Homo sapiens: one gene and its partners. The protein of the gene in region 4 purifies or fractionates together with the protein of the main gene of each other region. This does not show direct contact. Each region holds a gene or a part of one and is shown on either strand. Other genes may lie near its edges.

What was found.
Region 1: the proteins of PHF8 (region 4) and INCENP purify together in Homo sapiens (affinity purification with mass spectrometry; one large-scale study listed by BioGRID and IntAct). This does not show direct contact.
Region 2: the proteins of PHF8 (region 4) and ANAPC7 purify together in Homo sapiens (affinity purification with mass spectrometry, with the first as the bait; one study listed by BioGRID). This does not show direct contact.
Region 3: the proteins of PHF8 (region 4) and SETD1A purify together in Homo sapiens (co-immunoprecipitation; one study listed by IntAct). This does not show direct contact.
Region 5: the proteins of PHF8 (region 4) and CGAS purify together in Homo sapiens (affinity purification with mass spectrometry; one large-scale study listed by BioGRID and IntAct). This does not show direct contact.
Region 6: the proteins of PHF8 (region 4) and IL37 purify together in Homo sapiens (affinity purification with mass spectrometry; one large-scale study listed by BioGRID and IntAct). This does not show direct contact.
Region 7: the proteins of PHF8 (region 4) and EVPL purify together in Homo sapiens (affinity purification with mass spectrometry; one large-scale study listed by BioGRID and IntAct). This does not show direct contact.

Annotation. Positions count from the first base shown.
Region 1 is NC_000011.10:62,130,511-62,134,010, forward strand, and holds part of INCENP (inner centromere protein), read left to right. Parts: coding exon 1-80; intron 81-3,500. UniProt on the Homo sapiens protein: Component of the chromosomal passenger complex (CPC), a complex that acts as a key regulator of mitosis.
Region 2 is NC_000012.12:110,386,709-110,390,208, forward strand, and holds part of ANAPC7 (anaphase-promoting complex subunit 7), read right to left. Parts: intron 1,916-3,500; coding exon 1,804-1,915; intron 1,185-1,803; coding exon 1,031-1,184; intron 1-1,030. UniProt on the Homo sapiens protein: Component of the anaphase promoting complex/cyclosome (APC/C), a cell cycle-regulated E3 ubiquitin ligase that controls progression through mitosis and the G1 phase of the cell cycle.
Region 3 is NC_000016.10:30,974,754-30,978,253, reverse strand, and holds part of SETD1A (histone-lysine N-methyltransferase SETD1A), read right to left. Parts: intron 1-3,500. UniProt on the Homo sapiens protein: Histone methyltransferase that catalyzes methyl group transfer from S-adenosyl-L-methionine to the epsilon-amino group of 'Lys-4' of histone H3 (H3K4) via a non-processive mechanism.
Region 4 is NC_000023.11:53,992,474-53,995,973, reverse strand, and holds part of PHF8 (histone lysine demethylase PHF8), read left to right. Parts: intron 1-191; coding exon 192-281; intron 282-2,070; coding exon 2,071-2,373; intron 2,374-3,134; coding exon 3,135-3,238; intron 3,239-3,500. UniProt on the Homo sapiens protein: Histone lysine demethylase with selectivity for the di- and monomethyl states that plays a key role cell cycle progression, rDNA transcription and brain development.
Region 5 is NC_000006.12:73,425,755-73,428,297, forward strand, and holds part of CGAS (cyclic GMP-AMP synthase), read right to left. Parts: intron 1-2,543. UniProt on the Homo sapiens protein: Nucleotidyltransferase that catalyzes the formation of cyclic GMP-AMP (2',3'-cGAMP) from ATP and GTP and plays a key role in innate immunity.
Region 6 is NC_000002.12:112,909,862-112,913,964, reverse strand, and holds the start of IL37 (interleukin-37), read right to left. Parts: upstream 2,801-4,103; 5' UTR 2,717-2,800; intron 1,003-2,716; 5' UTR 953-1,002; coding exon 871-952; intron 174-870; coding exon 111-173; intron 1-110. UniProt on the Homo sapiens protein: Immune regulatory cytokine that acts as a suppressor of innate inflammatory and immune responses involved in curbing excessive inflammation.
Region 7 is NC_000017.11:76,010,307-76,013,806, forward strand, and holds part of EVPL (envoplakin), read right to left. Parts: intron 1,784-3,500; coding exon 1,700-1,783; intron 1,577-1,699; coding exon 1,466-1,576; intron 1,363-1,465; coding exon 1,270-1,362; intron 238-1,269; coding exon 1-237. UniProt on the Homo sapiens protein: Component of the cornified envelope of keratinocytes. May link the cornified envelope to desmosomes and intermediate filaments.

The DNA of each region.
Region 1 (3,500 bases), on a different chromosome or scaffold from region 4:
GGAAAGTGTTGTCCGCAGGGCGAGCAGAAGGCTTGCCAAGAAGACTGCCGAAGAGCCAGCTGCCTCTGGCCGCATCATCTGTGAGTCTGGGGGCTTGGCAGTGGCGGGTGGTCCTTGGTGCCAGGCTCAGATGGAGGCTTTCTGAGGGATCATCTAGCAAGGAGCTGTCCAGAGAGCTTTCTGCAGTGAGGTAGATGTTACACATCTGTGCTGTCCTGGGATGGTGGCCGCTAGCTGGCCTCATCTGGCGATTGTGTCCTCAAAATGTGGCTAGTGTGATTGAGGAACTGAATTTTAAATTGTATTGCATTCTACTTCTTTTAGATTTAAATAGTTACATGTAGCTAGTGGCTTCCACGTTGGATGGTGCAGGTCTGACCCAACCTACTTGCTTTACAAGTGAGGAAACTGAGCTTCGGGAAGGTCGGCCACTGTGTGGCTGTGGTTACTGGCCATGTTGAGGCTGGAGCCTGGGCCTCTTCCGCAGGGCCAGCTCATTCCTCCCAACCCTATGCTGCAGAGGCCACTTAAATTCACCGGGTTTGCGCGCCGCCTATTGGCGACACTGTGTTTGATCTGGAGGAGGGAATTATGGCAGCAGGCTCCTTCGGGGAGATCAGATGACTGGGCATCTGATGGGAGCCAGGAGGGGGAACCAAGCTGACTCTGGAGCTGGCCGGCCTGGGTCTGAGTGCCAACTCAGCCATTCACCCACCCTGCAGCCTGGGGCAGGTCCTGGAAACTTCACGGGCCTCCACTCCTTGCCTGTCAACTGGGGCTAATCGCGTCACTTCAAAGGGTCGTTGTGAGGTTTTCTTTGGTCACCCCACACAGGGAGTTTAGAAGGGTGCCTGGCATATAGGAAGGACTCGGTAATGTTAGCTGCTCTCTCAGATCTCAGCTTAGGGGGCCATTGCCCACTGGAGCAGGTGTCTGGAGGGGCAGGCTGGCTGCATGAGGAGGTGAATCTGAGCTGGGAGGGTTCTGAAGGATGGCTGCGCTTTTGCTGAGTGGAAAAAAAATGCGGGGATATGTGTTATTGGCAGAGGGAACAGCTTGTACGAAGACCCTGATGCCTAAAGCAACAAGTGATGGGTGTCTGGGGCTCATGCTCACACAAGAGCTTGAACTTGACCCCACTGAAGCAAAAGAAGTGGCTTGATGATGGGAAAGTGAGGGAAACAGGGAGACCAGATAGGAGGCTGCTGTAAGGATGCAGGCAGAGGACGGGCAAAGCAGCGGATTGGTGGCGAGGATAGGCCAGGATTTATCTTTTTTTTTTTTTGATACAGAGTCTCGCTCTGTTGCCCAGGCTGGAGTGCAATGGCACGATCTCGGCTCACTGCAACCTCTGCATGCATCTCAGGTTCAAGCAATTCTCCTGCCTCAGTCTCCCGAGTAGCAGGGATTACAAGCGCCCGCCATCACACCAGGCTAATTTTTGTGTTTTTGTTTTTTAGTAGAGATGGGGTTTCACCATGTTGGCCAGGCTGGTTTCGAACTCCTGACCTCAAGTGATTCACCCGCCTTAGCCTCCCAAAGTGCCGGGATTACAAGTGTGAGCTACTGCGCCCAGCCCAGGTTTTATCTCAACGCATGTTAAATAGTAGCTGGCATCTGCCTGGCACTTTAAGATTTATAAAATGAAAGGTTATTTCATTTGGTCCTTACAGCAGCATTGTTAGCTTGTGAGGAATTTTTCACTTTACAGAGGAGGAAACTGAGGCTTAAGGAGGCCATGGAGTCTGTAAATCGGGAAGCTGGGGCTTGAGCGCTGTGTGTTTCATTCTGTCCAGAAAGTCAGGTGCTTGCAGAAGAGGCTTTGTGCAAGGCCGCAGGGCAGGGCCTGTCAGGCAGGGGAGGGCACCTCACCTTGGCAGCTTTCTCTCTGCCTGAGTCACACTGCCTGGGGACGGGCCTGCTCCAGGGTTTGGGGTGACATACTCTGGGGCGTGTGCAGATGTGCAGTCTGCCACACTGTCTATTTCTGGATTCTCAGAAGGATCTAAATGGTTCTGATCTGTTTTGGAGATTTTCTCAGGCCTGGATCTGATCTTGGGAAGGGGCTTCAAGCGGGGGCAGGTGAGCCTGGGCCTGTAGAGGGAGGGCCAGGCAGGGTTGCAGAGAATCTCTGGAGACCTTTGGAGCAGACATCCAGATCTGCAGCTCTCATGCCCTTCCATCACTCTTCCCTCTCTGTCTACCCTTTCCCTGCCCATGAATGGGCTTCTGATTTGACTGGTGCATGTTACCTGGGTCTGTCTGACTCCCAGCCCAGCATCATCTCTCCTCTTGAGGGGGTGGAGGAGAGAGAGGAGGATACAGGATCTAGGATCTGGAGTCACACAGACCCTGGGTGACCTTGGGCACACCCCTTCTCTCAACCTCAGCTTTTCTGTGAAATGGTGATAACACTTGCTTTGAATGTGAATAGATAACTCATCTTAGTGCTTGAGTGTAGTGGATACTCAGTACATCTTATTTGAGAAAACTCACCAATGGCTGATGCTCAGTTTGGGTGCGACAAGGCCGACCCCTAGTGAGGAGCTGCAAGGGTGTCAGGGAGTGGGGCGGTGACAGGGGAGGAGGCTTCCTGGGGGTCTTCCTGATACCAGGCTCTGGGAGAGGCTCTCGGGCAGCTCCAAGGTGGGGTCTTGGTTTGGGTGTTCCCCACGAGCAGCCCTTGACACAAGGATTTGAGTTCAATTTGTTAATTTTTGGGAAATTAACAAATTTAATTTCCCAAAAATTAAATTCGGGATGGGAAGGAAACACCTGCACCAGAGGAATGGAAAAATGAGATAGGAAAAAAAGCCAGCAGTCAGCGTGGGTGGAGGGGGCTTCTGGAAGCCAGAGTGTGGCCCCGGGGCGTGGAACTGCTGTGTGTCAGCAGGAATCCCCTGCCTCCTGGCCTGGTGCGCACGTGCCTGCGGGGCCCATCGGGCAGCAGTTCTGAAGTGGATAGGAAGGGACAGGCCCACTGCCTCAGGACTCCACCTTGGGGCGTTCGAGCCACCTCTGCATTGGAGAACAGTCCTTCCATCCCTCTGCCAGTGCTTAGGCCACTTCCCTACCACCAGACCAGCTCTGAGGCCTGAATGTCGTGCAGATGGCACTTAGCATTCCAGAGAATGCTTGTGCTGGTGGGAGAGCCATGTAGTCACATGGGCGTCTTCATCAGGGAGCACGTGAGCTGGGATGACACAGCATGGGGAGATGAGGAGGATGTATCTTCTGGGTATAAACCCCTTAAATGGGGGTCATCACCACCCATGACTGTCAGCCCGGCGCTGCAGCTGCTCCCACCACCTCCCCAAACCTGGCTGCTATACCCAGGAAGGGTCCTGGCTTCCCTTCTCTGTGCCTGGCCTGCTGTCTTCCCTCTTTTCCTGAGACCCTGTGCACCCCAACCTCCCGCTGGCCACCTCCCAGCCTGAACTCTGACCAAGCCCCCATGGCTCAGGATGCGCCAGCTCAGCTACCTTCTCTCTGTTCCCCAA
Region 2 (3,500 bases), on a different chromosome or scaffold from region 4:
GAACACAACATACGCTACATGGTGTTAAAGGTAATGTCATTCACAAGTGACACCTATTTATTACTCAAGTAAACGACTTTGCATAACACAAGCCCAAGTCTCTTCTTGTCCTTGAACTTTATCTGAATATAAAGAAAATCCCTAGTCCTAAGCAGGCAAGCTAGGTTAGACACTGCAATAAACCAAGCTTCTGGTGAGTGCAAAATGATTTTCTTCCAGGCTGAAGAATGATACACCAAGGCCAGGCATGGTGGCTCACGTCTATAATCCCAGCACTTTGGGAGGCCCACGTGGGAGAATCACTTGAGCCCAGGAATTCAAGACCAGCTTGGGCAACATGGTGAAATCCCATCTCTACAAAAACATACAAAAATTAGCTGGGTGTGGTGGCATGCGCCTGTAGTCCCAGATACTCAGGAGGCTGAGCAGGAGGATGGTTTGAGCCCGGGAGATTGACAGGTCAAGGCTACACTGAGCTGTGACTGCGCCACTGCACTCTAGCCTGGGAGAGAGAGAGAGAGAGAGAGAGACAGAGAGACAGAGAGACAGAGAGAGAGAGAGAGAGAGAGAGAGAGAGACAGAGAGAGAGAGAGAGAGAGAGACAGAGAGACAGAGAGAGAGAGAGAGGCAGAGAGAGAGAGAGACAGAGAGAGAGAGACAGAGAGAGAGAGAGACAGAGAGAGAGAGAGAGAGAGAGAGAGAGAGAGAGAGAGAGAGAGAGAGACCGACCTTGTCTCAAAAAAAAAAAAAAAAATGACACACCAAGGTAGCCTGCTTTGCTTTGCAAGGGTTACTACCTGTGCAGGCACAGAGCTAAACTCAGTCAGATTTCTATTTTTACAGGTCTCCAACAGAGATGATTACATGATTACATTTGGGACCATTCAGTATAAAAGACTAACACATCCCAGAGACTGGCTGCAGCACCAACAGCAAAGCATCTCATTTTTCTTTTTGCTACTTCAGATACATCAGACTTCCAGACAAGCAAAGGGCCTCAAGAACACTGAATTAACTTTGTGGCTCTCACCAGATGGTACTGATTGCTCTTGAGTTGTCACCAGTGTGCACAAAAGCATACGCTTTGATCCACACAGAGAGCCAGTCCAAGTTAGGCACGGTTTGGATCACATTCATTGTCATGGATGCCACCTCTGCCCCTTTTACAGAAAGGGACAACAAGCCTAAACCAACAGAAAGCAGAAGAAAGAAAGTAAGGCACGATATCTCTCTTCCACATGCAAGGAGCAACGGGCTACATCTTCCCTTGGCTAAAAGGCAACTGCTTCCCTATTCTGAGCGATGCATGAGAGAAAAACCATAATTTAGTATTTCTTTTCTTTTTGAGACAGTGTCTTGTTCTGTCCCCCTGGGCTGGAATGCAGTGGCACAATCTCAGCTCACTGCAACCTCTGCCTCCTGGGTTCAAGCGATACTCATGCCCCAGCCTTCCGAGAAGCTGGGACTACAGGCACGCGCCACCATGCCTGGCTAATTTTTGTATTTTTAGTAGAGACGGGGTTGTGCCATGTTGCCCAGGCTGGTCTCGACCTGCTGAGCTCAGGCAATCCACCCACCTCAGCCTCCCAAGGTGCTAGAATTACAGGTGTAAGCCACCATGCCCGGCCAAAAACCATAATTAAGTATTTCTTGATTGAATATGTGACAACAGGAATCCTACTAAATCACTCTCTTCAGGGGAACTTTTAAAAAAAATAAAGTTATTCTAATGTACAGGCAAGATTGAGAACTACTATCTTTGACAGTAAACATGCCATGAAAACAGGCAGGAAATATCTCTACCTAGAATGGCATCAAGGGCTAATGGGCACTGCCTCAGCACCTCCTTATAGCTGGTGACTGAAGGGCGCTCCTGACCAGCCTTCTTGTACAGGTTTGCCAGCATCATGTTTATCTGTACAAACACAAATAACAGATAGCAAAATAAGCGTATATTGCAAAGAAAATCTCTCACCATGAAAAAGTCCTAATTTTCATTACCAGTTATTTACTTTTTACTGGAAAATCTACCCACAACCCTGTGCAAATAAAGGCAGACTGACCCCATTCTTCAAAAGAAAGAAGAAATTGGCCAGGTGCAGTGGCTCACGCCTGTAATCCCAGCACTTTGGGAGGCCGAGGTGGGTGGATCACGAGGTCAGGAGATTGAGACCATCCCGGCTAACACAGTGAAACCCCGTCTCTACTAAAAAATACAAAAAAATTAGCTGGGCGTGGTGGCGGGAGCCTGTAGTCCCAGCTACTCGGGAGGCTGAGGCAGGAGAATGGTGTGAAACCGGGAGGCGGAGCTTGCAGTGAACCGACATCACGCCACTGCACTCCAGCCTGGGCTACAGAGTGAGACTCCATCTTAAAAAAAAAAAAAAAAAAAAAGAAAAGAAAAGAAATTACTACCCTTCCTTTCCCTAGCTCCTGCCTTCCCTAAGAGGAAAGTCACATTACCTTCCCACAAGGCCCAGTAATATCTGAACAAAAGACGCTGCCCTCTGGAAACTGGAATAACATTCATTTAAGAAATGGTAGAGAACGCTAGTTAACTTGATTCTTTCTTGATCTTAAAACAGAAGATGAACTATCTCACATAAGAAAGTGAGAAACTCTTGACATAGCTAGTTAAGAAGGATCAGCTCAGTTTTTCCTAATAAGGAAATGATACAGAAAGACAGATAAAGAAGTATAATACTTGGCTTTTCTTTGACAATTCGACTTGTGGCTAGACTCTAGCCTTTCTAACACTTAAGGCTTTGGCCCGTAGGTACTAACTCACTAAAGTAATGCTACAAAAATCAGCTACACTATTTAAATCCAGTGAGTGCAGACAGCTGCATTTTAGCGTAATTTAAATATGTAACTTTGTAAAGCTAAATTAAAATAATCCTACCTAACATGCAACTGGGAAATGAGAAAATCTAAAAGTTCTGGCCGGGCGCAGTGGCTCATGCCTGTAATCCCAGCACTTTGGGAGGCCGAGGTGGGTGGATTACGAGGTCAGGAGATTGAGACCATCCCGGCTAACACAGTGAAACCCCGTCTCTACTAAAAAATACAAAAAATTAGCTGGGCGTGGTGGCGGGCGCCTGTAGTCCCAGCTACTCAGGAGGCTGAGGAAGGAGAATGACGTGAACCCGGAAGGCAGAGCTTGCAGTGAGCCGAGATCGTGCCACTGCACTCCAGACTGGGAGACAGAGCGAGACTCCGTCTCAAAAAACAACAAAAAAAACCCACAAAAACAAAAAAAAAGCCAGAAAATCTAAAAGTTCCTAAGAATGTAGAAGTTATAGGCAAGTGATAAAAGACCTTCCTAATAGTACACAGATAAACACAATATTCCAATTTAAAATTAGATTTTTTTTTTTGAGACGGAGTTTCACGCTTGTCACCCAGGCTAGAGTGCGATGGCACGATCTCAGCTCACTGCAACCTCTGCCTCCTGGGTTCAAGTGATTCTCCTGCCTCAGCCTCCTGAGTAGCTGGGATTA
Region 3 (3,500 bases), on a different chromosome or scaffold from region 4:
TCGCCAGGTGGGAGTGCAGTGGCGCAATCTCGGCTTACTGCAACCTCCGCCTCCCGGGTTCAAGCGATTCTCCTGCCTCAGCCTCCCGAGTAGCTGGGACTACAGGCATGCACCACCACACCCAGCTAAGTTTTGTATTTTTAGTAGAAGCAGGGTTTCACCATGTTGGCCAGGATGGTCTCGATCTCTTGACCTCGTGATCTGCCCGCCTCGGCCTCCCAAAGTGCTGGGGTTACAGGCGTGAGCCACTGTACCCAGCAGAGGGTCCTATCTTACAGACAGGAAAACTGAGGCACAGAGATGTGGTCAGTTACCAGATGACAGAACAAGCTCTGCTCCCAGGCCATGTGGGTTGAGCTCATGCTCTGAACTGCAGCCCACGGACTCACTGGCTTCACAACTGGCTTCCCCGCTCAGCGCCAACAGGGCCGCCGGCACCAGGCCCGGCCCTAGGAGGCAGCGATTCACCTGAGTCCACCGCACTCCCAACCCTGGCGCCCTGAGCCAGGCTCTTGGCTGCACCTTAGGCTCTAGACACCCGCTGGGGTCTCAGCCTGTGGCAGCAACCCACTCCAGGAAGCCAGTGAGGACCCAGATGCATGCAGGCCTCCTCTCACCTTCCTCCCCACCACGCTGGGGCAGCGCCCCCTACAGACCACCTCACGCTTCAGCATGCATGTCCTCGGGAAGCCTCGCTCGAAGAACACACTCCTCCACCAGCACAGCTGCTGCACACACACTTCCCTCTGCGACTGTCCCAAAGGGAACCTGCCCATCCCTCTCATTTAGGAGACAACTTTTGGGGGCACCTGCCCAGTCAATATGACTCCCACCACCTTCCTCTGAGAACTGCTCTACTGCCACGCTCAGGTCCATGGGGCGAGGCCCCAGAAGCCAGTTCCTACTGCATAACCTGCCCCTCCCCAGGGCCATCACTAACATCCCCAGGCGGCAATCACTAAGACGGTGGTGACTGAAACTGGTTCTGGTTATTAGAAACTCGGTGAGCTGGCCGGGCGAGGGGGCTCACGCCTGTAATCCCAGCACTTTGGGAGGCCGAGGCGGGTGGACCATGAGGTCAAGAGATCGAGACCATCCTGACCAACATGGTGAAATCCCGTCTCTACTAAAAATACAAAAATTAGCGGGCGTGATGGCGCGTGCCTTAGTCCCACCTACTCGGGAGGCTGAGGCAGGAGAATCACTTGAACCTGGGAGGCTGAGGATGCAGTAAGTCGAGATGGCACCACTGCATTCCAGCCTGGTGACAAAGCGAGACTCCATCTCAAAAAAAAAAGAGAAGAAACACAGTGAGCCTTCACTAAGCACCCCTTGCTCTGAGCCACGGCTCCTCTGTCCTCGGTAACTCAGACTCCCTTGTCGTGCCCTCTCACTATCCAGACACCAAGGGGCTGCCTGCATCTTCCTCTCCTCTTCCACCTCTGCCACCTCCCCAGGGGACTTGGCAATCACGCCTGTTTACCTGGATTCTTGCATCTCCAGTGATCCCCTTCAATCACCCTCAGCTCCCCTCAAGCAGCCACACACCTGGCCTTGTCAATCCCAGAATGGCTCCGCCTTGGAGATTCCCCATCCTCTCCAACATTCCCCACTGTCCATTCAGTCTGCCCCACTGCACCTTCAACTTCCCATCCTTCAGTTTCCCTCTAGCACATCACCCTCTTCCCAACTTCCTCCTCCACCCTGCCCAGACCCCAGGGCCCGTACTTTGCCCTCTCCTGTCCCAGCACAGCCCCAGGTCCTCATCATTCCACCACACCTTTACCCTGTGGAGCCAGCCAGCAGCCTCTTCTCCCCTCACTCCCAGGCCCCAGCTCTGGCAAGGCCTTCCAGCATGGGGAGGCCCAGGCGAGAGGCTTGCTCTGTCTCCAGGATACAGTGCAGCGGCACAATCACTGTTTACTGCAGCCTCCTCAACCTCCTAGGCTCAAGCAATCCTCCCGACTCAGCCTCCCCAGAAGCTGGGACCACAGGCATGTGCCACTATGCCTGGCTTTTTTTGTTGTTGTTGTTAGCCAGACTGGTCTCGAACTTCTGGGCTCAAGAGATCCTCCTGCCTCGGCCTCCCAAAGTGCTGGGATTACATGTGTGAGCCACCGCGCCTGGACTGGAGCAACTTTTCTCCACTTTCCAAGGTTCTTACTCCACTCTTCCTCTCACAGTCCTACAGCAACAGGGTCAAAAGAGGACTCAGGCACAACACCCCCATCTCCCTGCCTCCCCACCGAAGGGTATAACTGCATCAGATCTGGAAGCTACTCCTCCACCTCCCCAAAAAGGCCATGCCAGCAAGCATTCCTCTCTCCCGGCACATCTACCTGGCCCGTTCCCTTCAGTGGAACATGCCCAAACCTCATCTACTTGGAAAAGCTAACCCCTCCCTCAACCCTGCCCTCTCTTCTTGCTCTCCCTCCAGCTCTGGCTGGTAACCTTAGTTTGTTCCTGCATCTCACTAAGCCTTGAAGCCCTCATCTATAAAATGGGAATCACAGGGAGGTTGTGGGGCAAGCGCAGTGGCTCACACCTGTAATCCCAGTACTTTGGGAGGCCAAAGTGGGCTGATAACTTGAGGTCAGGGGTTTGAGACCAGCCTGGGCAACATGGTGAGACCCTGTCTCAACTAAAAATACGAAAATTAGCCAGGCGTGGCAGTGTGCACCTGTAATCCCAGCTGCTTGGGAAGCTGAGGCAGGAGAATCACATGAACCCGGGAAGCGGAGGTTGCAGTGAGCCGAGATTGCACCACTGCACTCCCGGCTGGGTAACACAATGAGACTCCATCTCAAAAAAAAAAAAAAAAAAAAGGGAGAGGTTGTGGGGATTCAATGAGAAAATGAATTGTCAACATGCTATGCCTAGAGCCTGGCACACATAGGTACTTGACACATGGGAGCTGATATCACAACCCCCAATTCTTTTTTTTGAGACGAAGTCTCGCTCTGTCGCCCAGGCTGGAGTGCAGTGGTACAATTTCGGCTCACCGCAACCTCCACCTCCCAGGTTCAGGTGATTCTCCTGCCTCAGGCTCCTGAGCAGCTGGGATTACAGGCGCCTGCCAGCATGCATGGCTAATTTTTTTTTTTTTTTGGAGACAGTCTCGCTCTGTCACCAGGCTGGAGTGCAGTGGCACGATCTCGGCTCATGGCTACTTCTGCTTCCCCGGTTCAAGCGATTACTCCTGCCTCAGCCTCCCGAGTAGCTGGGATTACAGGCATGTGCCACTATGCCCAGCTAGTTTTTGTATTTTTAGTAGAGATGGGGTTTCACCATGTTGGTGCTGGCCAGGATGGTCTTGATCTCTTGACCTCGTGATCTGCCCGCCTCAGCCCTCCCAAGTGCTGGGATTACAGGCGTGAGCCACCGCACCCAGCCTAATTTTTGTATTTTTAGTTAAGATGGGGTTTCACCATGTTGGCTAGACTGGTCTCGAACTCCTGACGTCAAGTGATCTGCCCACCTCAGCCTCCCAAAGTGCTGGG
Region 4 (3,500 bases):
GTGTGTATGGTGCAAGATAGGGATTGAGGTTTGTTTGTTTTTGTTTTTTTTTTTGCATGTGGATATCCAATTGGTCCAGAATCATTTGTTGAAAAGACTACTCTTTCTCCATTGAATTGCCTTGGCATATTTGTCCAAAATCAGTTGTCTCTTTATGTGTGGGTTTATTCCTCATGCCTCTTGTTTGACAGGCTCTGCCAGACCATGAGGATGAGATCCCGGAGACAGTGCGAACCGTACAGCTCATTAAAGATCTGGCCAGGGAGATCCGCCTGGTGGAAGTAAGGAGCATGGGGCAGGGAAGAAAAGGCATTTGGAAAGGCCTTGAGGCTCAAGTGGCAGGTTAGGCCTCTGCAGTTAGCATGAGAGCCCAGGGGAAGGGTCGGGAAGACCCTACCAAAGACCCAATTCATTCGTTCAAATAATTATTACTGTGTTTCAAGTGTGCCGCACATTGGGCTAGGCTCTTAAAATACGTAAATAGTGCCTGCCCACAAAGAACTCAGCCTAATAGAGGACCCTGAGCAAAGTTAACCTCTTTGAGTTTCAGTTTCCTCATCTCTAAAATGGGGATAATTGTACCTACTCGAGGATTGTTAAAAGGATTAAATAAGGTAATGTGGGTTGAGCACAAAAATAGAGTGCTTGGCACACAGTAGGTGCACAGTAAATTCTGACGGTGGGTCGTGGTGGTGGGTGGTGGTGGTAGTTGTAGTTGTTGTTATTATTAATATTTTGACTCAGTCTCTGCATTCTGCAAAATGACAGTTCTCTCGGGGTGAAGATGATTACAAAGCCATGTTTCAACAGGTGGCATATACCACGAGGCAGTAAGGTATAGTGGTAAGAGATTCAGAGAAACCTGGGTTCTGGTTCCTGCTCTGTCACTTGCAAGCCTTTCAGAGCCTCAGTTTCCTCATCTGTAAAGTGAGGATAACATCAACCTTTCAGGATTTTGTTAGGATCAAAAGCTAATATATGTAGAGCCCCTCGCACAGTGCCTGGCAGAGTAAGTACTCAATAAATGTGAGCCATTGTTATTAGTAGACTTTAATAGCAAAGAGAGAAGTTGGTGTGGGATGGTGAAGTAGCAGAGGCACCAGAGGAGAATTCCTTTAAGCTCAGAAGCTGTAAAGTTTTATTTAGTGCCCAGGATATATACATCCATGCTGAAGGGTGGTCAAAGTGAGCTGGGAAGTTGTGCTTCTAGCCTCAATGCTTGCAGCATGTTTCACTGCCTACACCATAGCTTACAGTGTCCACCTCCTACCTCTCATTTTCCTCCAGTCCCATCTGTCAAAATCATTCAGGATAGTTAAAGGCTTACCTTTTCTCCAGCGCCTCTCACTTAAACCACAAAACTTTGGGCTGGTTGGAAGAGGACTTAGAGATAGATTATATGTGGTCCATGGGCTTTCAAATGTTTTAAAGCAATGGAATCCTTTTTTTAAAATGACATCTTAGGTGGAAGCCCAATATTCAAAGCATAACTGCTTTGAATAAGATGAAGGTGGGAGGCCCAGGGCTCCACTTGTTCTTCTCATTCGCCTTCTACCTTCCCCCGATTCTCGGGGCTCCTCCCAAGAAGCTCAAAGGAGCCACAGAACATCTTCAAAAATCACCTTTCCAGTCTAGTCCTTTAATTTTACAGCTAAGCAAACAGTCTCAAATGGTCAGATAACTTTCCTGAGCTAGTTACAGAGCTAGCTAGCAGCAGAATTAGGACTAGAACCTCTCCTTCTCTCAAATCCTGTAGTCCTTAGAATTTGAACCACACAGATTAGTACTTGATTATTTTCTGTCTCATGTCAGCTACTTAATGGAGTATTTTCTCTCCAGTTTTGACAGTAGTGCTTTGCTCGTCTTCTTACTTGTCAATGGCTGGGTAAAGAAATGCCACCCAATAAATTCTTGATGACTCATTATGTAAAAGCTAGGGTGTGCATATGTGGAGCATCTATAAGCCACTTCCATGGCAGTACCACCAGTACCAGGAACAGACCTCTGCTGTTAGTGTTGAGAGAACCCTTGAGTAAGCTCTAACCCCCTCATGTACTAACACTCTTGTAGGACATCTTCCAACAGAACGTTGGGAAGACGAGCAATATCTTTGGGCTGCAGAGGATCTTCCCAGCCGGCTCCATTCCCCTAACCAGGCCAGCCCATTCCACTTCAGTGTCCATGTCCAGGCTGTCACTGCCCTCCAAAAATGGTTCAAAGAAGAAAGGCCTGAAGCCCAAGGAACTCTTCAAGAAGGCAGAGCGAAAGGGCAAGGAGAGTTCAGCCTTGGGGCCTGCTGGCCAGTTGAGCTATAATCTCATGGACACATACAGTCATCAGGCACTGAAGACAGGCTCTTTCCAGAAAGCAAAGGTGGGTGCTGGCCCATGGGTTCAGCCCAACCCTTTTGGGTGTCCCTTGGAAGAGCAGGGTTTCAAAAAGCAGGCTATCCTGTCTGGCTGCCATGTCCCTTAGACCCCCTGCTGTTTGGCTACCAGTCCCACTCATTTAATAGGCATTTATTGAGACCTTTTCTATGCCGGGCACTGTGATAGGTGCTGTGGATGTGACTCTCAAGAGGCTGACAGGCGAGTGAGAAAGACAGGCATAAAAACAAATGAGTGCAATCAAGTATTGTGAATGCCACAATCAGGGGTGTGTGTGGGACCCTGAGATACAGAGGAGGGTTGATTCTGTCTGGGTAGGGAAGATTTTCAGGAGCTCTTTTCAGAAAACATAACACTTAGCTGAATTTTGAAATGCTGGGACGGGAATGAGATTTGAAAACATTGCGTGTGTCAGGTTGTAGTCTTGAGCAGGTCCTTGAGAAAAGCCCTCCACCAGGGCTCCATCTTGCCTCAAGATTGTGATTCTCTCCATGGGCATCTGAAGATGTGCCCCCTCTTTTTTAAGGGAACATGGTTCACAAGATTGACAGGTGTCCCCTGAACCAACCACACATTTTCAACCTCCTGCTCCTGTGATCAGTGGGGGTATGGGGGGACAGTATAGCAGAAGGCCTTGGCTCAGGTGGTTTTGACAGTGAACTGAACCAGTGAAACCAGAGGGAACTTGCCATCGTGATTCCCATGGGAGTCCCAGACAGGTAACGGCTGAGTCTCCTACTTCTACAGTTCAACATCACTGGTGCCTGCTTGAATGACTCAGATGACGACTCACCAGACTTGGACCTTGATGGAAATGAGAGCCCATTGGCCCTATTGATGTCTAACGGCAGGTGAGGTGGGAAGGAGGAGCACAGAGGTACTGGGACTGTCAGTGGTAATATGCCACTGAGACAGGGCATGGAATTGGAATCTAGGGGTTGGGACATGGGTAGGAGGGACTGTACTTAGGGCAATACCTAGATATTATAATGTATTGTTGCTTAGTTCAGAGAACCATGGTGTGGTGTTGGAGGTGGGTAGAGTGAGAGGTCTGAAATCGAATTGGCAAGCCTGAGAAAGATTTTATCAGTTCTAGAAACTTCAGCAAGTCAT
Region 5 (2,543 bases), on a different chromosome or scaffold from region 4:
ACCTAAGATCAAGAGTTTGAGTCCAGCCTGACTAATATGGTGAAACCCCGTCTCTACTAAAAATACAAAATTAGCTGGGCGTGGTGGCGCACGCCTGTAATCCCAGCTACTCTGCAGGCTGAGGCACGAGAATCGCTTGAAGCCAGGAGGCGGAGGTTGCAGTGAGCCAAGATCGCGTCATTGCACTCCAGCCTGGGCAACAAGAACGAAACTCTGTCACACACAGAAAACAAAAACAAAAACAAAAAAGCCGGGCGCGGTGGCTCATGCCTGTAATCCCAGCACTTTGGGAGGCCTAGGCAGGCGGATCACGAGGTCAAGAGTTCGAGATCAGCCTGGCCAGTATGCTGAAACCCCATCTCTACTAAAAATACAAAAATTAGCCAGGTGTGGTGGCGTGCACCTATAATCCCAGCTACTCGGGAGGCTGAGGCAGGAGAATCACTTGAACCCAGGAGGCAGAGGTTGCAGTGAGCCAAGATCATGCCACTGCACTCCAGCCTGGGCAACAAGTGAGACTCCATCTCAAAATAAAATAAAATAAAATAAAATAAAATAATAAAATAAAATGAAATAAATGAAATGAAATGAAATGATAAAATAAAATAAAATAAAATAAATACAACAGTCACACTAAAATCTGATTATGTTTTCAAATATATGGTTTGAAGTTTCAAAAACACATTTTTTCCCTCTCTTTCCCATTCTTAGCTTAAATATATTCTATGAATTTCTTCAACTGTATAAAGCTAACAGATATTTATACTATTTTTTTTTTTTTTGAGACAGGGTCTCACTCTGTCACCCAGGCTGGGATGCAGTGATACAATCTCGGCTCACTGCAACCTCTGACCCTCCCCTCACCCCCCTCAAGCGATCCAAAATCTTGTTTTGTTATAAAATTATTTTACTTTATTGAACTGCAAATTTAATATAAATTTTTTCTTTTCTAAAATCCACTGATTGTATCACAGAATTATTTACATTATTAAGAGTACCATAGATAATCTGCCATCTCATCTAGTTATTTAGTAGTTGACAAAATGTACTATTTATGAAACTATTTAGCCTTATCAACAATATTTCTTTTTTTTTTTCTTTTTCCTTTTTTTTTGAGATGGAGTCTCGCTCTGTTGCCCAGGCTGGAGTGCAGTGGTGTGATCTCAGCTCACCGCAACCTCTGCCTACTGGGTTCAAGCGATTCTCCTGCCTCAACCTCCTAAGTAGCTGGGATTACAGGTGCATGCCACCTCGCCCGGCTAATTTTTGCATTTTTGTAGAGACGGGGTTTCATAACGTTGGCCAGGCTGGTCTCGAACTCCTGACCTCAGGTGATCTACCTGCCTCGGCCTCCCAAAGTGCTGGGATTACAGGCGTGAGCCACTGTGCCTGGCCAACAATATAGTTTTCTTAATGCTTACTTCAAAGCCTGCATATGAGATCTTAAAGAACCTCTGTGCCTGCATGTTGGGCATTTTTGTTTTGACTTTTTAACTTTTGTGATCTTTATACTGGCCAACTTACTTTATTTATTTATTTATTTATTTATTTATTTATTTATTTAAGATGGAGTCTTGCTCTGTTGCCCAGGCTGGAGTGCAGTGGCATGATCTCAGCTTATTGCAACCTCTGTCTCCCGGGTTCAGGTGATTCTCTTGCCTCAGCCTCCTGAGTAGCGGGGATTACAGGCACGTGCCACTGCGCCCAGCTAATTTTTGTATTTTTAGTAGAGACGGGGTTTCGCCACGTAGGCCAGGCTGGTCTCGAATTCCTGACCTCAGGTGATCCACCTGCCCTGGCCTCCCAAAGTGCTGGGATTGCAGGCCTTGAGCCACCATGCCTGGCCAATACTGGCCAACTTTAGAAACTCAAATGAACAATTCCTTTTCAATCTTAGTTCTTTATGGTGTGTATGCCATCACAAAAAAAAATGGTGGGGTGCAGTGTCTCATCCCCGTACTTCCAAGACTTTGGGAGGCCAAGGCGGGAAGTTTACTTGAACCCAGGAGTTGGTGACCAGCCTGCCTGGGCAACAAAGGGAGACCACCATCTCTACCAATAAAAAAAATTTTTTTTGAGACAGGGTGTCACTATGTCACCCAGGTTGCAGTGCAGTGGCACGATCATGGCTCACTGCAGCCTTGATTTTCTGGGCTCGAGCCATTCTCCTACCTCAGCCTTCCAAGTAGCTGGGACCACAGGCACCAGTCACCATGCCTGGCTAATTTTTAAATTTTTTATGGAGGTGGGGTCTCACCATGTTGCTAGGCTGGGATTACAGGTGTGAGCCAACAGGCCCTCTACAAAATTTTTTTTTAAATTAGCCGAGCATGGTGGCATGCACCTGTAATCTCAGCTACTTGGGGGGCTGAGGTAGGATGATTGCTTGAGCCCAGGAGATCGAGGCTGTGGTGAGCCGTAATTGTGCCACTGCACTCCAGTCTGGGTGACAGAGTGAAAGTCTGTCTCAAAAAAAAAAATTACTCACTTAGTGTTGTTTTCAGTTTGGCCAATCAATCCCTAGCCGTCAACACAACCCAACT
Region 6 (4,103 bases), on a different chromosome or scaffold from region 4:
GGTGTCCCCATTCTACAATTCTCCCACCCTGTAAGAGGACCCAATGGCTCCATCCCCCATCCCCACCCTCGCACCTCAGCCACCCCCATCACCTCACCCCGAGGCCTTACTTGTGTGAACAAAATTCATGGTGGGGAGGCTTGGGCCTGGTTCCAGGGGGCTTCCAGCCGGGTCTGCAGTCAGACGCAGTGAGGTTAGCATATGCAATTCGGATTTTCCAAGGATTTAGGGGTATCAAAGACCATTTAATTCCCTCTTCTGTGTATGTGCTGAGAAATACTAGAGCAGCATGATAGTAATGACATTAAATCATAGCTTCCCTCTTCAGAAACATAGAATAGAGATGAACTGGATCACGGGTTTGGCCTCTGGCATGTCACAGGCCTCTCCCGTCACACCTCAGTAGACAATCATTTGGGTCAAAAGCCTCCTCCTATTGTCCCCCATGGGCAACACCCAAATGTGTTCCTCATGGAATACTCAGATGCCCTGTGCCTGGGTCATTTGTTCAGCCCAGCCTTAGAGAGCTGCTTCTCATCGGAGGCTTCTCTTCCACTTGGGAATGTTGGGAGGGAAGAGGTGCATTTTGAAGCATATGCAACCATCCAGTTGGCAAACAGGATGCTAAAGCCCCAAATCTGTAGGTGAGGACGATCCTTTTATCTACTACCTGATGTGCCTGGACACTGAAGCAAAGCTTCCTTTTCCCTTCCAGAATTTCTCTTGTCTAGTTATTTGTCCAGGGAAATTTGAAAGCTCACTTACTGTGCAAGTCAGCAGGAAACAACTGGGTCTGTGCACAGCACCTAGCAAAGTTCTGCTCTAGGAATTACACTTTGGCCCTGAGGTAGATTTCTACAAGAACCTTACCTTCTAAGCAGCACTGGGGTTCATCTTTTTCCCAGTCCTCAGAGCCCATTTTCACTCCTGAGTTCTCCCCCACAAAGGACATTTTCAACGTTGAGTTTATTACTCAACAGAAAATGGAATGAAGTCCAAGACCTAAGGAGATAGAAAGGGGACCAGTTATGGCATCTTCTCACCCCAGGACACCTTGCTGCATGTCTCTAGTGCTGAACAGACCACTGGCCTTGCTCTGTAGTTTGAAATGCTCGCTGCAACCAGAAAGGCACCAAGGGGCCAGACCATGCTCTCCTGTCTATCACGCCTTCAAAGCAGAATTTCCCAAACCTTGAGTCACAGTGCTAACACACGGGGTGCAATAGCATTTTTGTGGATCTTGGCATTTTACAAAAATAAAATAAAAAAGTTAAAAGTGCATTGCTCTAGTCTTGGGGCTGGCACACTATGGCCTTTGGCCAAATCCGGTCCCTGACTGTTTTTTTAAATAAAGTTTTATTGAAACACAGCCATGCTCTTGTTTACATATTGTCTCTGGCTGCTTCGAGGCTACAATAGCATGGTTAACTAGTTGAGAGATCATCTGGCAAGCAAAGCCTAAAATACTTACCATCTGACACCTTCTATAGAAGTTTGCTGAGTCTCTGCAGTAGCCTAATCTTTGCCTAACAAAAAGCAGTTGCTCTGCAACCTCTTTTCATGAAAACCTAAGCCACCAAATGTCCCAGGAGGCTCAATCCCTAATATCTTAGGGTAGGATTGACTCACGTGACTTGCTTCATTGGGAGGGGTTGGAGGAGATATATTTATATATATAAATTCTGCACACCCTATCTCAGTTGACCGAGAGCTTTCAACATCAGCCCAGGCCAACATAGGACAGAAGTGGAGCAAAAATTGGTATTCCCATCTTACCGATAAAAAATCAAAAGTTAAGTGATTTGTTCAGAATCATATCACTTCTAAGATTGCAGAGATAGGCAGTTTGTGTACAAATCCAATCCTTTGAGAAAGGTTTAGGAGTGAGACAAAGGGAACTAAATTGTTCATGCAAAAAATAAAAATGACAAGGAAGGGCTTCAGGACTCAACAATAAGGACGGTGAGCAGGAGCAGGTGGGTAGAGCTGATGGGTCTTTAGGAACAGGGATATCTGCTATTTGATTTTAACCTGTTTGTGGTTTGGCAGTATCCCTGAATACATGAAGCACAACTGCCTTTGTCATGTTGGGGTAAATCAAAGGACACAAAAAATTGGAGGCGCTTGACAGAGAATTTGGCAGCCAGAACATCAGAGCAAGAGATGTCTGGCAGAAACGTAGGTATCCAAAGACATATAAAGATACTGTGGTGCTGCTGAAGGACAGAAGGATGCTCACAGGCTGGAGGACCTGGGGCCATCCCTCGGGGGTACTCATGAAATCTGCTGCCTGTATTAAGATAAATGCAGGGAGCTTTCACAGAATTCCCTAAAGAAGCAGTGCATCTGGCCATCTGAAGTCCATCTCTTTGCACTCAAAATCTGTTCCCAAGGACCAATATTTTCTAGACTCTAAAGTCAGTCTTCTGAGCCTTCAGAGAAGGGACTAGCATTTCCAGGGTTGGTGGATTTCCTAAGCTAGTGTCTGCCTGGCCCTCCAGCAATGCCCTACTTGTTAGTGGAAGCCCTCCTGGGAGAGAGCAGGCTGCTACTGGGGCTGAGAGCAAGGTGTTCTGGGCAGGTCTCAGAGATCATATTTAGAAATTCAGATGTGCTTCCAGTGGGGATAAAAAGCAAGGGTCTAGATGGCCAGATGCTACTCTACTTCCCCATCCATCCTGTTGGCCTTGAAAGCCAGTGCAGGAGGACCACCTACCTGGGCCAGGGATCCTCGTGGTCTGTGGCTCTGTCTTGGACTCCTGGAGCTCTGTTTGCCTTCAGTTCTCAGGATCCTTTACTTGAAGGAGCTAGGTCTGGTACTCATTTGTAATCAACAGTTTGTGAGTGGTTATGCAAATACAACACAAGTATTCCTTTGGCCAATAATAAATAGCATCCTCAGTTATCAGTGATCACTCATTTCCTGCTATTTTCCATGCCAACGGTATAAACAAATTCCTGTGGGGGTAGTGCCACTCTGCTAAGGACTGTGCCACACCTATTCAACACATTTCAAGGTACTTGTGATAGATCAGGTGGCTTCCAGTCCAGTCCAATAATACAGGTATAGAAAACAGAGGAGAGTGAAGGAAAGAGGGGACACAGGGTTTAGATCAGCCAATGAGCCTGGGAGGTTCAAGGAAGCCCTTGTTCTCATGATGGTTCTTTGCCCCAATTCCAGAGTTCATGCAAGTGGAGTCCCCATGTCCCAGAGAAAAATGTCCTCTTTTCATGTTCCCTTCCAGGTACACTCCGGGATGCACTATACCTCTTCTATGTCCCCTCTTCTTCAAAGGTGACATGCAAAAGGACCTTCCTTGATCAAGCCCTCCAAGGACTAGCTTCCTTCTACAGCCCATTAGCTATTTATCTGCACTTCCTTGCATTTTTCCATCACATTTGCCCTTGTCAGTTACTGTGTATGGCTATGTTTTACAACACCACACACAGCTGCTCAGTATGAGGGGAAATCCACATAACCAATTAAGGTAATAGCTTCTGGACCACCACCAGCAGCATGTCAATAACACAGGAACAACAGGCCAGCACAATAGTCAACCACTGTGCTCTCACTGTGCCAGGTCTGGGCTCAGCCCATTTATTTATTTTTCTCCAACCAAATCCTTTGATGACCCTGGGGGTAAATACCATCCTTCCTGTTTTACAGACAAAAGGTGGTGCAGTTTAGAGAGGATGGACAATTTACCCAAGATCACATCCTTAATTACTGGAAGAACTATAACCCAGGCCTTTCTGAGCATGCTGCAGCCTCATCTCTTAAACTTCACCGAAGACTGTGGTCTCATCCTCTAGCCTTTCTTCACATACGCATTTATATAACATACAAATATAGGAGTGTGTCTGACAAATTATTTTGTAAGATACATTTCCTACTTAATGTATCTTGCCTTTTCTACTCAATATGATATCTCAAACATCGTTCCATTTCATCAATACTTTTCTACAATAGTGTATCTAATTACTGCAAGGTATTCCATTATTTGTCTAAAGACCTGGAAAAATGTTATTCCCTTGATGGCTAGAATACAAATCCCTGATTTCTGTTAAATTCCATAAGGAGACACATATCTTTAGAGAACTTC
Region 7 (3,500 bases), on a different chromosome or scaffold from region 4:
GGGGTCCCGGTAGAACTCTACCACTTCCTTCTCCTCCAGCCTCTCCAAGGGCCGCTGGGTCCTCAGCTGCAGCAGTTGGCTCCTCTGCGCCTCCAGCTCATGCTGCACCCGGGCCACCCGCTTCCTCTCCTCTTCCAGCTGGGCCTTCAGGGCCTCTGACTCTCTCCCTGCTTGGGCAGGGCTCTCGGAGCCCTGCTTTGCATCATGGGTCCTTCGGATGTCCTCACTGAGCTCCTTCTGCAGAGAGGAAGAAGGGTAGAGCACGGGGTGGGCGGTAGAGATAGGAGCTCCATGTTTTTCCTGAGATGAAAGACCCCTCCCTGTTTCCTGAGACTCCCCAGTGGGTCCTCAGAGGTGGAGCTGAAGACCTAAGATGCTTGGATATAGGATTTTGAGAAGACCCAGTCAATGCAATGATTTTAGGACCCAAGGCAGTGCGCAGGCCTGGTTTGCATTAGAAAGTGCAAGTAAGGGCCAGGTGCAATGGCTGATGCCTTTAATCCCAACACTTTGGGAGGCCAAGGTGGGCGGATCACCTGAGGTCAGGAGTTCGAGACCAGCCTGATCAACATAGTGAAACCCCATCTCTACTAAAAATCCAAAAAATTAGCTGGGCGTGGTGACGCATGCCTGTAATCCCAGTTACTCAGGAGGCCGAGGCAGGAGAATCGCTTGAACCAGGGAGGCGGAGGTTGCAGTGAGCTGAGATTGTGCCACTGCACTCCAGCCTTGGTGATAGAGCGAGACTCCGTCTCAAAAAAAACAAAAAACAAAAAAAAAGTGCAAACAGGACAGGTTCTCCCTGTCCCTCCAGAACCTCTCCCTTTTCCCCTTCCATCCAGGGACCCTGACTGTGGCCGAGGGTAACAGAAAAGCTGGCAAGTCACCAGGAGTCCTGGAGAAGTTCTGGCTTGAGGGTGTGTAGGCCGAAGGTGGAGAGCCAGGTGGCTGAGGGTGAAGCTCTAGGGGATTTTCTCTGCTCTCTGGGGTTAGAGGTCTTGTCCCATTGGAGGATGCCCAGTGGCCATGAATGCCATCTCCAGGGCCTAACCCTGGGATGGACACCAGCCTGTAAGAGCTGCTGGAGAGAAAACTGGGTGGCTGGAATCCGCTCCCCTCTCCAGCAGCCAGAGCTGCCCAGGGGCTGCAGGCAGGAGGGAGAGGAGGGAAGGAGACTACCAGGGTGACAGCCTGGCATTTTGGGAATGGAGTGGGCATTCCTGGTTATTCCTGGCTATTGTGGGAAAGCTGTAGGTGTTGTCTGTGTACCTTCTCCAGCATTTTTCTAGCAAACTCCAGCTGCTGGAGCAGCTGCTGCTGTGCTGCTGCAACCTCAGTATAGGCCTTTGCAAGGTTCTTCTCCTGGAGAAGGCAGAGGGAGAGGGGAAGGGCAGAGTCAGCTCCTGCCTTGGACCCTACAGAGCTGGTGTCAAGGTCCACTGAGCCCCGCAAGGTCCCATCTCACCTGGGCTTGGATGCTCTCTTGCAGGGGAGCCACTCGGGGTCTCTTGGGGGCTGACACTGCCAGGGTGGGCTCCAAAGAGCAGCGGTAGGTGTCTGCCTGGAGCTCATAGTCCTGAGCAGGGAGGAAAGGACAGCAGGCTGGCAACCAGTGGGGGAGGCTGGGTGTGGGGGATAGGGCTGGAAGAGGGACAAGGGTGATGCATGGAGAGGGGCAAGCTGAAGGCAAGCTGCTTACCTGGAGCGCTGCCTGCAGGGCCTGGGAGAGGTGGGATGCTGTGGCCCTGTCCCGCTCTCGGCTCTGGATCTCCTGCGTCAGCCTCTGCCAGGGAAGAACCCAGAGTCAGGAGGCCAGGAAATGCCAATCACCCTGACTCTCCTCTAGCCAGTGCCTCCAGGGCCACAGTCAGGCAGAGCTGCCTCCCAGGGACAAGAAAGGGCAGGGAGGGAGACCTGGGCCAAACTCCCTCCTTTCCCTGACATCATTCTCTCTGCTTTTCCTCCTTCCTCTCCGAGGCACCTTGGCAGAATCCCTTTCTTTCCTTTTTTTTTTTTTTGAGACCAAGTCTCACTCTGTCACCCAGGTTGGAGTGCGTGATCTCGGCTCACAGCAGCCTCCTGGGTTCAAGCGATTTTCATGCCTCAGCTTCCTGAGTAGCTGGAATGACAGGTGCCTGCCACCATGCCAGGCTAATTTTTATATTTTTAGTAGAGATGGGGTTTCGCCATGTTGGCAAGGCTGGTCTCGAACTCCTGACCTCAGGTGATCCGCCAGCCTCGGCCTCCCAAAGTGCTGGGATTACAGGCATGAGCCACCTTTCTTTGGCCTTGTGCCCCTCAGAGTTCCGTTCTAGCACAGTAGTATCTGCGAGCATCACCTGGGGCCTGTGGGAGGCAGGCAGGCATGCAGGGCCCACCTGCACATCAGATCCAGCAGGTCCGGGTGGCCCTGAGAATTCATATTTCTTTCTTTTCTTTTTTTTTTTTTTTTTTTTGAGACGGAGTCTTGCTCTGTCGCCCAGGCTGGAGTGCAGTGGCGCTATCCGGACTCACTGCAAGCTCCGCCTCCTGGATTCACACCATTCTCCTGCCTCAGCCTCTCGAGTAGCCGGGACTACAGGTGCCCAGCACCGTGCCCGGCTAATTTTTTGTATTTTTAGTAGAGATGGGGTTTCACCGTGTTAGCCAGGATGGTCTCGATCTCCTGACCTTGTGATCCGCCCGCCTTGGCCTCCCAAAGTGCTGGGATTACAGGCGTGAGCCACCGCGCCCGGCCTGAGAATTCATATTTCTGATAAGTCCCCAGGTGATGCTGCTACAGCTCATCCAGAACCATGGCTCCAATTGGAAAGTTCTCAATACGGGATGCCCACTTTTATTCACCTGGGAACTTAATATACTGATGCTCTGACCACAATAATCCAACTTATTTGGTCTGGGGAGGGGTCCTGGCCTGGGGATGTTTTAAAAGCTCTCTGGGAGATTCTAGTTTGCAGCCAGGGCTGAGAATCTCTGTCCCAGGCCCCCTTCCCAATGTCACCTCCCTACTCTCTCCCCAGATATTCTCATTTTCCGGCAGTCCCAGACCCATCTTTGCTCTCACGAGCTCCTAGGGGAACCCCCAGCCCCAGTTCCCTCCCATATGCCTACGTCCACCTCCCCGCTGCCCTCGGCTGTCCTGGCCACCTCATTTCAGCATGACCCAGCCGGCCCCATTCCTCTCCCCAAATATGCTCTGTTTCCTGTGTTCCCGCCTCAAGTGGAGGTGCCCCCTCTTCCCAGTTGTCCCCAACAGAACCCTGGGCATCACCGGGCCCCGTCCATCTCACTCACTGTCCCCTTCAAGCAGTCACCAAGTCCACCTAATTCTGCCATCTCCATCTCAGATCTGCCCACCTCGCCCTGTGCCATGGTCCCTTCCCCGGCCAGGCCACCACTCTCTCTCCGCTGGATTTCCACCCTGGCTCCTCGTGGGCCTCCGTGTCTTCATTCCCACCCTCTTAGTCATTCTCTACATGGCAGCCAGAGCCAGCTTCTAA